3 linked regions of the Homo sapiens genome follow. The protein of the gene in region 2 purifies or fractionates together with the protein of the main gene of each other region. This does not show direct contact. Each region holds a gene or a part of one and is shown on either strand. Other genes may lie near its edges.

Region 1 (3,657 bases), on a different chromosome or scaffold from region 2:
CAGTGCGCTCTAGCCTGGGCGACAGAGTGAGGCCCTGCCTTGAACAAAATGATGCAAAACAAAAAAACCACAGAACCTGATAAATAATTAATTATGAAGCATATAAGAGCCTTCACTTAGGTCCCAAAATAGAGCATAGCTAGCGCCCCCGTCTGTCTCTCCTTTTCCAGTTACACCTCATTCTCAATTTTATAAAGTAGCTATTGTCCTGAGTTTTATGACGCTACTCTGTTGCTTTTCTTCATAAATTTATTGCTTATATATGTAGATTTGATTTGCATCATCTATGGATTTTATATTTGCAAATTCATGTACTTACTGAAATTTATTTGTGACCCCAAAATCAATACTCAACGTCACTTCTGCAGTTGTTCAGACTTACCCATATGCAGAGTGGTGGAAAATTTGAGTGGCCCAACCCATATTATTCCCAAAGAGGGCAAACATGGCAGTGACCTACCTTCTTATTTCAGCTCTCATCCTGTACACAGATGTCCTTTTTGCAGTCTAATGCCATGTTTTTCACACTTTTATGCGTTTTGTTGGTGAGGTCACTTTTTAAAATGGCCCCATACTAGTGCTGTCTAGTGTTCTAAGCACAAGAAGGCTGTGATGTTCCTTAGGGAGGAAATATGTGTGTTAGATAAGCTTTGTTCAGACATGAATTATAGTGCCATTGGCTGTGAATTCAGTCTTAATGAATCAACAGTAAATATTAGATACAGCATCTTAACATACATGCACAAAACAAGGTTATGTATTGATTGGTTGACAAAAATGTCATCAGAGGCTCATAGGAACCTAGCCCTGTATTTCTCCTAGGAGCAATGCTCTGGTATTCCCTAATTCAGTGTTTGCAGTGACTTTAAAGAACATAACTACCACAAAATAGTAAGAATTGACTGAATATCTGAATGATATAGTTTGGTTTTGCCTGCTTTTGAGCCTAATAAAAATAGAATCGTAATATTTTTATGTTTTTTTCTTACTCCATACTAAAGATTTATCTGTGTGGCTGTAGCTGTTTGTTCATTTTTATTAATGTATAATATTCTATGGTATAACTATACCACAATTAACTGTTCTATTGTTGATGGACATCTAGTTTTTTTCCAGCTTTTGGACATTATGAACAATGCAGCTCTGAGTATTCTTATATATGTATCTTAGACATGCATGCCTGAACTTCTCTGTAGCATAGACCCAGAAGTGGTTGGCTCATAGTAGTAGATAATGACAAACTGTCTCCCTAGATTCTTGAGCCAATAATAGTGAAAGTTCCTGTTATTCCACAAGCCTGATGATGCTTGATACTGTCATCGGTATGGTTGGAACTTCAATTTCCTTTTGTCCTTTTATAGTCGGTCAAGTTCATAGTGAACTAGGGAGTCTGTTCATTTAGGCTATGGAAGCCTTCTAGTAATTTGTACTTTCAGTGAATAAGGAATTCCTCTTTGTCTTTCTGCGTGTGTGTGTGTGTGTGTGTACGCGCGTGTTCTCCTTAGGGAGATTGGAGTCTAGTAGGAAAAACTACTTACGAAGCAGCGCCTTTGTAATACTGTAATACGGCAAGCTTTGGTCTATGTCTAGTAACAAGAAGCTCTGAATTACTTTGAACTTCGGATGCTTTTTGTTTTTTTTTCTTTCCACTCCTATATAAAGCTTAAGAGATGTGATTGCTGTTTTTGGCAAAAAAGGGGAATCTTTTCATATTTTAAAATTTTTGCCAGGAAACATTACCTGGAGCCAGAATAAGTGGAGGTCTTTCCAACTTGTCCTTCTCCTTCCGAGGAATGGAAGCCATTCGAGAAGCAATGCATGGGGTTTTCCTTTACCATGCAATCAAGGTATGGTAGAAGAACTCTTAGCCCTGCGGAAACCAGTTTTTAGTTGGGGCAGGGGTTTTCAAAGTGTGGCATGCAGGCTAAGTCCGGCCTGCTGCCAGTTTCTGTAAATAAGATTTTATTGGGATAGAGCCACACCTATTCATTTGTATCTTGTCTGTGGCTGCTTTTATGCTGTAACTACAAAGTTGAGTAGCTGTGACAGAGGCTATGGCCTAAAATATTTCTCTCTGGCCCTTTACAGAGAAAAGTTTGCTGATCGCTGACTTAAGGTATCACTGTAAATTCTCATTTTTATTTGTATTGCCCTTAGTCTGGCATGGACATGGGGATAGTGAATGCTGGAAACCTCCCTGTGTATGATGATATCCATAAGGAACTTCTGCAGCTCTGTGAAGATCTCATCTGGAATAAAGACCCTGAGGCCACTGAGAAGCTCTTACGTTATGCCCAGGTAGAGAGACAAGTGTTCTAATAGATGGATTTTTCCTATCTTTGAATGTATTACTCACCTACAGTTAGTAGACCTTCATGGTGGAATAGAAGCAAATATCGAATCATATATTTGGATCACTGAAGATTTCTACAGAGAGTTGCAGAGATGGTGGTGTAGCTAGGGCAAGGAAGGGTAAACAGACCATGCCTAGGGTGCTTCCGTATTCTGAACTTAGGTTTCTTTAAATTTATTGTAAAATGTAAAATTAATTTTTCTTGTACCAAGTAACATATTAGTTCTAGAAAATTTACAAAATTCTGGTAAGCAAAGGAAGAAAATAAAAATCACTTGTAATCCTACCACCCAAAGTTAAACACTTGAGATTTTGTTATAACCTTTAAGTGATGGGAGTTTTTATTTCTTTTTGCAAAATGAATATGCATGCATAGGTACATATACATACATTTTTTACAAAAATAGAACTATACTCTAGATGCTTTTATGGTAATATTTTTTTCTTAGCAGTGTACTGGGAACATATTTCCATTTTACTTGATATTTTTCTACCTCATTATTTAAAATAGCTGTTCTGGATTTTCTTGTGTGGCTATGTTAGTGTTACATGGTCCCCACTGTTCCATGTTTTGGTTTGTATACCTGTTTATGTTAGGATCTGGTCCATCTGTGGCAAAGTTCTGCAGTTCAAGGCTTAGGTCTGTGCACATTTGATGTGTAAAAAATGAGTATAATTATAGCTAATTCAAACACCAGCTTGTTTCTCATTTATATGTTGGGCGCAGTCCTAGGCACATGAAGTATCTATCGTAGATGGTTCTTCTTAGAATTCAGTTTAAGGAAAGTTGAGATCTTTACCTCAAAAGAACTTGCATTTTAATCTGTTTAAGAGAATGATGGCAAAGGAAGATATTTTTCCCACAAAGCATGTTGAGAAAGTGGTAGGATGCTTTTGTGTCTCTTGCCAACTTTGTTAATGTTTTCCATGTTAGAATCTGAATTTAGCTCTGATAGAACTGCCAACTTTGCCTCTTCCACAGAAGAGTAATAAAATGCTCTGGAAGAAGGATAGGACACTATGAGATTAACCACATCCTTGTTTTATCAGCCTTACTGGTAGTAAGACTTAGATTTCTGAAATTGCTTATGGAAGCCTTAGGCTCAACAAAGCTGAAAGGAGTTCAGACACTGTGCCAACGCTCACACGACCCTCCTCTCAGTTCCTTAAAAACATTTCCAGTTTCTCATGTGGACCCAGGACAGAATGTTTCATTTGGTTGTGGCAGATACAATCAAGTTCTACTTCTCAGCACATTACTTAAGAAACATTCCATAGATTTTTAATTTTTTTCCTATTGACCA
Region 2 (3,159 bases):
AAAATATTACATTATAAGACCCTGTCTTGTTAAATACTACAGAGAATATTGATATTTTTGTTTTAGCAAGCAATCATGCTGATTAGGTTCAGGCTGCAGGTTGGAATTGTAATTTCAGTGTCATATTGGTTTCACAGGTTTTGCAGTGCTATGTGCATCTATCTGGTGTGTCCCTCCCCAGGGGTCAGTCTGGGATGTGAGCAGAGATATATTTGTTACCTCAGTTCTTCAATTCTGGGGCATGCTATTGGGATCGGTTCCATGCATACACAGGTTGGGGGTGAGGCCAAGAGTTCATAAACAGTTTTATGGAGTAACTTTACTAAGCTCTTCTTGATTCATTCTCTCCCCAGTACTTTCTGGTTCTCTGGGTTTCCCATTTTTTATCTGGCCTAAAACTGCCTAGTTCCATGATTATGCAACATCCAGGCCAAACACTAGGAGAACAGAGAAAGAATAGAGATCTGGTTGCAGGCTCCTCTTGCTGGCTATTGTTGCTGCCACCTCTGTCCCCACTACCACTGCTGCCATCACAGAATGGCCTGGGACACAAGAGGATGGAGAAAAAAGAGCAAAGCAATCTTGAGGGGGTTTCATCTACTCTCTAGGGTTTTGGGGATTTCCCTTCTCTATTCCTCAAGCTGGGTTTCTTCTAGGGCTTTTGGGGTTTGGGTTTGTTGCATCCAGGCTAAGAAAGAAGTGGTAAACTCACTGCCAGTTCAGTGGTGCTTTGAATTCAGTGTCCTCTCCTATTTACCTGTTGCTGTTTGCTTTTCAGTGTTCTGAAATAGCTGCGCTGTAGATTTGCATCCAGAGGGAGAGAAAGAGTGTCATGTGTTTTCTCTGTCTTACGCAGAACTGGAACCTCTGATTGATATAATTTAAAATTTTTATTTTTGAATTAACTCATCCTTATATACAGAACAACAGCTGATGTTATGAATAAGAGTCAGGTAAATGGCCAAACCACGTAGTTTTCAATTGGCGTTGTTTATGTCTACATTTATGTCAGCTACACATGATACCATTTTGGCATCTTCCTTTGATCACATAACTGTCACTGTAGATTTCTATTTGCACCTTCTAACCAGCCTTGTGGATGAAAGTCATCTTCTGATTTATTTGCAACTTGTGGGTGATTTCCTGGGAGCACAGCCTCTGCACACAATCTCATGGCAGGGCTGGTCGGGGCACTGAGCCTGGATGTAGTCAGCTGACCTGTTTGAGGCAGTTCTGAGAAAAATGAAGTGGGAATCCTCACTGAAGACGCCTGATGGGGAGTGTACCTTCAGTGTAAGTTTATGCATACTTCAGACATAATTGAACTACAGCTGGCATTTTTAAGCAGTAGTCTTTTGAACACATCAAGTTGGGTGCAATTTCAGAACAAATTTACATGCAGCTCTTCCGAGATGCAAATCTTTGCAGAAATCACACCTGATGCAGTTGAACTGGCAGCTGTTCTCTGGCATACTCAGGAAGGTGGGAGAGGATCTCAGTGGAGGTGCGAATGCATTCATATATAATTCAGAGTTCATGTTAATGTTTAGTTACCCCTGTGACCTATCATGAGTGGTTGATTAAAAAATGTTGAGCCTCTTAACTAAGGAGACAATAATCCAGCCTCGGTTGCTGTGATCAAAGTCAGCTGAAGCCATCCTGGTTCCACCTTCGTGGTGGGGAGACAGTCTGGCTCCGTGTGGACTCCTGTAGCAGCCCCTTAATTTCAGCTTTGGTTACCTCATAAATAAAACATGATATATACTTACCTTGTAAGGTAGGCTGTTGAGAAGATTAAATGAGAAAACATATAGGAAACAGCATTCTGAAATGTAAAGTGCCATACAAGCGTTTATTACAAGAAATTTTAAACTAACAAAGATAACAATAGGAGGCAACGGTGAATTAAGAGAAGCAAGTCTAATAGTAGAATCAAAGCCTTCTCTTCTCTGCCTTTCAGGACATGGACTCATTTTATGGAGGGTCTGAATTGTGAGGTCTCTGGGTGGGTCTAGAATTGTGGGTCTAGATAAATCCCCACCTGAGCCTATTCTAGCCCTGAGAGTGTATGATTCTGCAAATAGGTGCTACAGAGTCAGGCATGCCCAAGTGTTTTTCTCATAGGACTGTGGCGATTAGCATGGGCACACTTCCTGGGGTTTAGTTATTAATGCCTCTCTCCCAGGTCCCCAGGCACCTTCTTGGCATCCTTCTATCCACGTGAAAGAGATCATGTTGGGCTGAGAGCCCCAAAGACAGATTTCCAGTTGCTAGCCAGGCCTCTTGAGTCCCAGCACAGAAAAAGTAGTTTTGCTTTAATTGGAAAGTTCAGGTTCCCAGACACAAACTCTCCTGAGAGATCCGCAGGAGGCTCCCTGCCCTGAACTGGCCGTCTTCTGCCCCAGCAGACTGCCTTGTCCCCTCCCCTGAGGACCACCAGTGTCCTGCCTCTTTCCCCTTGGTCAGCAACACTCTGTGGGGGAGGTTACGCATGGGGGTTACAGACAAGCCCAGGGGACACCCCCCAGTGCCTTAGGCAGCCACAGCACCATGCAGGCCTGATACTCAGGGTGCCCATCCAACAGGGCATGAGTCAGGGACGGGTCAGCTGACCACTGTCTTCTTCCTCCTGCCCTTGCAGATCACCTCCAATGAGAAGCACTTGGAGAGCCTCAAGAATGCAGGCAGCCTCCTGCGGGCTCTGGAGCGGCTGGCCCCTGGGAGTGGGTAAGTGGGACCCAGGAGGATCAGCAGTCTGCTCTAGATCAGCACACACTCTCAGCCATTCCTTTCTCCACTCCTCCCACTCATCTCCCTCCACACCAGGGACTACCACCTTCCAGCCCATCACTGTCCACTGAGATCCTTCCCAGTGTGGGAAGGGAAGCTCTGCCACTCCACACACTGGGAATCCCCAGTTATGGTGGGGAAAGTGAGGGGACAGGAATCAACAGGGGGAGAGAAAGTCTTAGTCCTGCCAGGGGAAACAATATTCCCACCTTGAGGCCCCTGAAGAGGTTGAGTGGATGACCAAGTGGGAGATGCAAGGAACCTCATGAGAAAGGCAGCCCCTGGCCTGTGCACACATGCCCCCATCAGCAGCCCAGCCAGAGGCATCCTCATCACCACCTTGTGGAGGACTCAAGGCCCAGGCAGGGC
Region 3 (2,762 bases), on a different chromosome or scaffold from region 2:
CCAAAGCTGGAAATGACAGCCGCGTCCAAGCACAGGGTTTCTCGGCTCCTTTTACTCTTGGCACACACACTTTCTGTTGACCCAGCCTGCACGCCCCAGAGTCAGTGCATCAGAACGCGCCCTGCTGAAGCTTGAGTCCCAGTCCTGGGCAAAGCCCTCCCTTGGTGGCCGCCCTTCTGGCTCTTCTACCTTGGTACAACAGCAGCACCATCCCTCAGCGCTGGGCACCTACTCTAAGCTCTGGAACAGTGAGACCTGATACGGATAACCTGGCCCGGGGCTGAGGGTAGAAAGAAGGAAAAAGGGAACCGGGAATTGACTTTAAAAGCTGCAAACCCGGAGATCAGGCGGGAAGGGAAAGGAGGCTCATGCCCGTCAGGGCTGTGATGACTCCCACACCCACCGTAAATCCTGGGACCCCTGGCCCTCGGGCTGCCTGCCATTGGAGTTGGCCTCTTGGGCACTGCAGACCTTGTCCATCTTTTCTAGCATTTGGGGACACACCTTGCCTGGATGATCAGCTGGGTGACACTCAAAGAAGGACACAGCACGGTTTTTAAATAACTTTATAATTTCCTGGTGGATTTAGTTTGTGAATAAAAAAGAAAAAATGAACAAAGTGTTTACAATAATTATCAAGGCAAAGTTGAATATAACACAATTTCTTTGTAATGTCATTATCCTGTCAGTAACACAACTCCAGCAGGAACACACACATACAGCTGAAGGCAGCGGGTGCACGTGCATCCCAGACACCACCATGGAGGCTGCTACTGTTACCAAAAGGAACTCAAGCTACAAGGGGGCAGGTGCTCCTCAGCTCCTCCACTAAAGTGCAACACTTCTCTTCTGACGCATCAGGGAGCAGTCACAGGCCCCACTGGATATCCTGCAATGCCCGGCAGGTGCCTGGGCTAGTCCTGCGATGGGCCAGCAGGCCAGAGTGGGTGGTGCTGCCCTCAGGATGTGTAGCTGCAGTAGATGGATGCAATACTGGCGTGGTGTGGAATGAGGGGCTGGACCCAGAGGGCCTGCTTTGGCCGGGGTGAATTCTCTGGCTTCAGTAGGGTTCACTTCCTTTCCTGACAGTGGCTTCTCTGGGGTCAAGAGAGAGCCTGGGCCTAGGAGATCTAGGGTCTAAAAAAGCTCAAAGGGAAATAATTGAGGGCCTGAAGCCAGAAGGAACTGACATGGAGGACAGTCTGTTCCACCTGGATTGCAGGCTCCAGGCTGGCCAGTGCTCACCCGTGCTGGGTGGTCACTGGAAGAGATAGCACCAAGTGGGCAGGAGAGGTCCTGTGGCCTGCCAGGCAGGGGCTTCAGGGTCAAGCCCAGGTTACCATGCAGTATTAGGCACACTGAGCTAGAACCCACGTCGGGTGAGGGTGGTTATGGGGTCACAAACTGTGAAACCTCTACCCAGAGGTCCTGAACATGTATAGGAAAATCCTGGCACAACTGCGAGGCTCTGAGCCCCAGATTCTCGTTCCTTTTGCTCGGCAGGTGTCTCTTGCCCAGGCAGGCACTACCCTAAGTGTGCTCCATGCTTCCTAAGCCGCCAGCCCAGGGCCACCTATGCCAGCCTGGGAGGAGGGGAGTGTGGCTGCCCCATAGCTTGAATTCCTTTATTAACAAGATATTGGTTTGCATTTTTAAAACACAGCTGTTTAATTTTTCATTTCTACAACTACGTTTTAATCTTTTAATAATCTCAACAACAGACACAATGTAACTGCCCCAATTCTCTGAATCACACAGACAATATCGACAAGCAGAGAAAGAAGAGAGGAGGTGGGATGGGACAAAAACCCGCTCCCCCAAATCAATCCCTAAAACCACTTCTCCCCCAAGAGTCAGGAGAAGTACCTACAACAGGGCCACAGCACTTGCCAAACACATTGGAAAAAATCAGGAGACAGTTGGTTACATTTTTGACACTAAAAAGTCTGGAGACGGTTTTTGCTGAAGAGTAGGTGAAGATAGCCATTTTGTTCAGAAGGATTTCCCTGTAATGTATGTCTTTTCTTGCAAGAAGAGTAGGTGAAGACAGCCATTTTGTTCAGAAGGATTTCCCTGTAATGTATGTCTTTTCTTGCCTAATTCTTCCCTAATTTGCATGGGGGAAACTCCAGATCCTCTTTAAGACATTCCTTTGAGTGGTTCACGTCCCCTCCTGAGCAGCCCAGGGCTGGCAGTGATGGACGGGCGGCCTCACTCTGCAGAGGGTGCCTGCTGCATTGCAGTCTCTTCTCATCCTTCCTCCTCAGTTCCGAACCCAGGCAGGTGAAGAGGAGGCCAGGAGCAGATGTTAAATTACTGGTATTTGCTGACACAGGGTCCGCTGGGCTTGAGAAATGCCATGTGGTGTCACACTCCACGCAGCGGTCTTCTCTGCTTGGCTCTTTCCTCAAAGACTCTGAGGGTCTTGACACCGGGCCTACACTCAAGTAACATGGTCAACAGGAGGGCGGGATGGTTCTGGGAGGAACAGGACTCTGGCAGCAAATCCAAATGCCAGTGGATGGGCGGCTCAGAAACATTTATATTTTGGGGTGACACATGATGGTTGCCTCACAACCCTGACCCTCAATAGCGGAGGGATTAGTTCAGCAGGTGGCTAAGACCGTGTCTGTGATGACTTCGCCTTCCTCTTCTCTCACTCTGGGGGTGGGTGAGCCCGCAAGTTCCTCATGGAAAACCAGACTTCAATGGACAGAAATTGAGGGGCAAGTCACAATGCCCTTCTTGACACTGAAGGCGGC

The links.
Region 1: the proteins of ULK4 (region 2) and MTR purify together in Homo sapiens (affinity purification with mass spectrometry; one large-scale study listed by BioGRID and IntAct). This does not show direct contact.
Region 3: the proteins of ULK4 (region 2) and ERC1 purify together in Homo sapiens (affinity purification with mass spectrometry; one large-scale study listed by BioGRID and IntAct). This does not show direct contact.

The regions. Positions count from the first base shown.
Region 1 is NC_000001.11:236,850,791-236,854,447, forward strand, and holds part of MTR (methionine synthase), read left to right. Parts: intron 1-1,730; coding exon 1,731-1,847; intron 1,848-2,157; coding exon 2,158-2,298; intron 2,299-3,657. UniProt on the Homo sapiens protein: Catalyzes the transfer of a methyl group from methylcob(III)alamin (MeCbl) to homocysteine, yielding enzyme-bound cob(I)alamin and methionine in the cytosol. MeCbl is an active form of cobalamin (vitamin B12) used as a cofactor for methionine biosynthesis.
Region 2 is NC_000003.12:41,249,057-41,252,215, reverse strand, and holds part of ULK4 (serine/threonine-protein kinase ULK4), read left to right. Parts: intron 1-2,641; coding exon 2,642-2,727; intron 2,728-3,159. UniProt on the Homo sapiens protein: May be involved in the remodeling of cytoskeletal components, such as alpha-tubulin, and in this way regulates neurite branching and elongation, as well as cell motility.
Region 3 is NC_000012.12:1,493,721-1,496,482, reverse strand, and holds the end of ERC1 (ELKS/Rab6-interacting/CAST family member 1), read right to left. Parts: 3' UTR 552-2,762; downstream 1-551. UniProt on the Homo sapiens protein: Regulatory subunit of the IKK complex. Probably recruits IkappaBalpha/NFKBIA to the complex. May be involved in the organization of the cytomatrix at the nerve terminals active zone (CAZ) which regulates neurotransmitter release.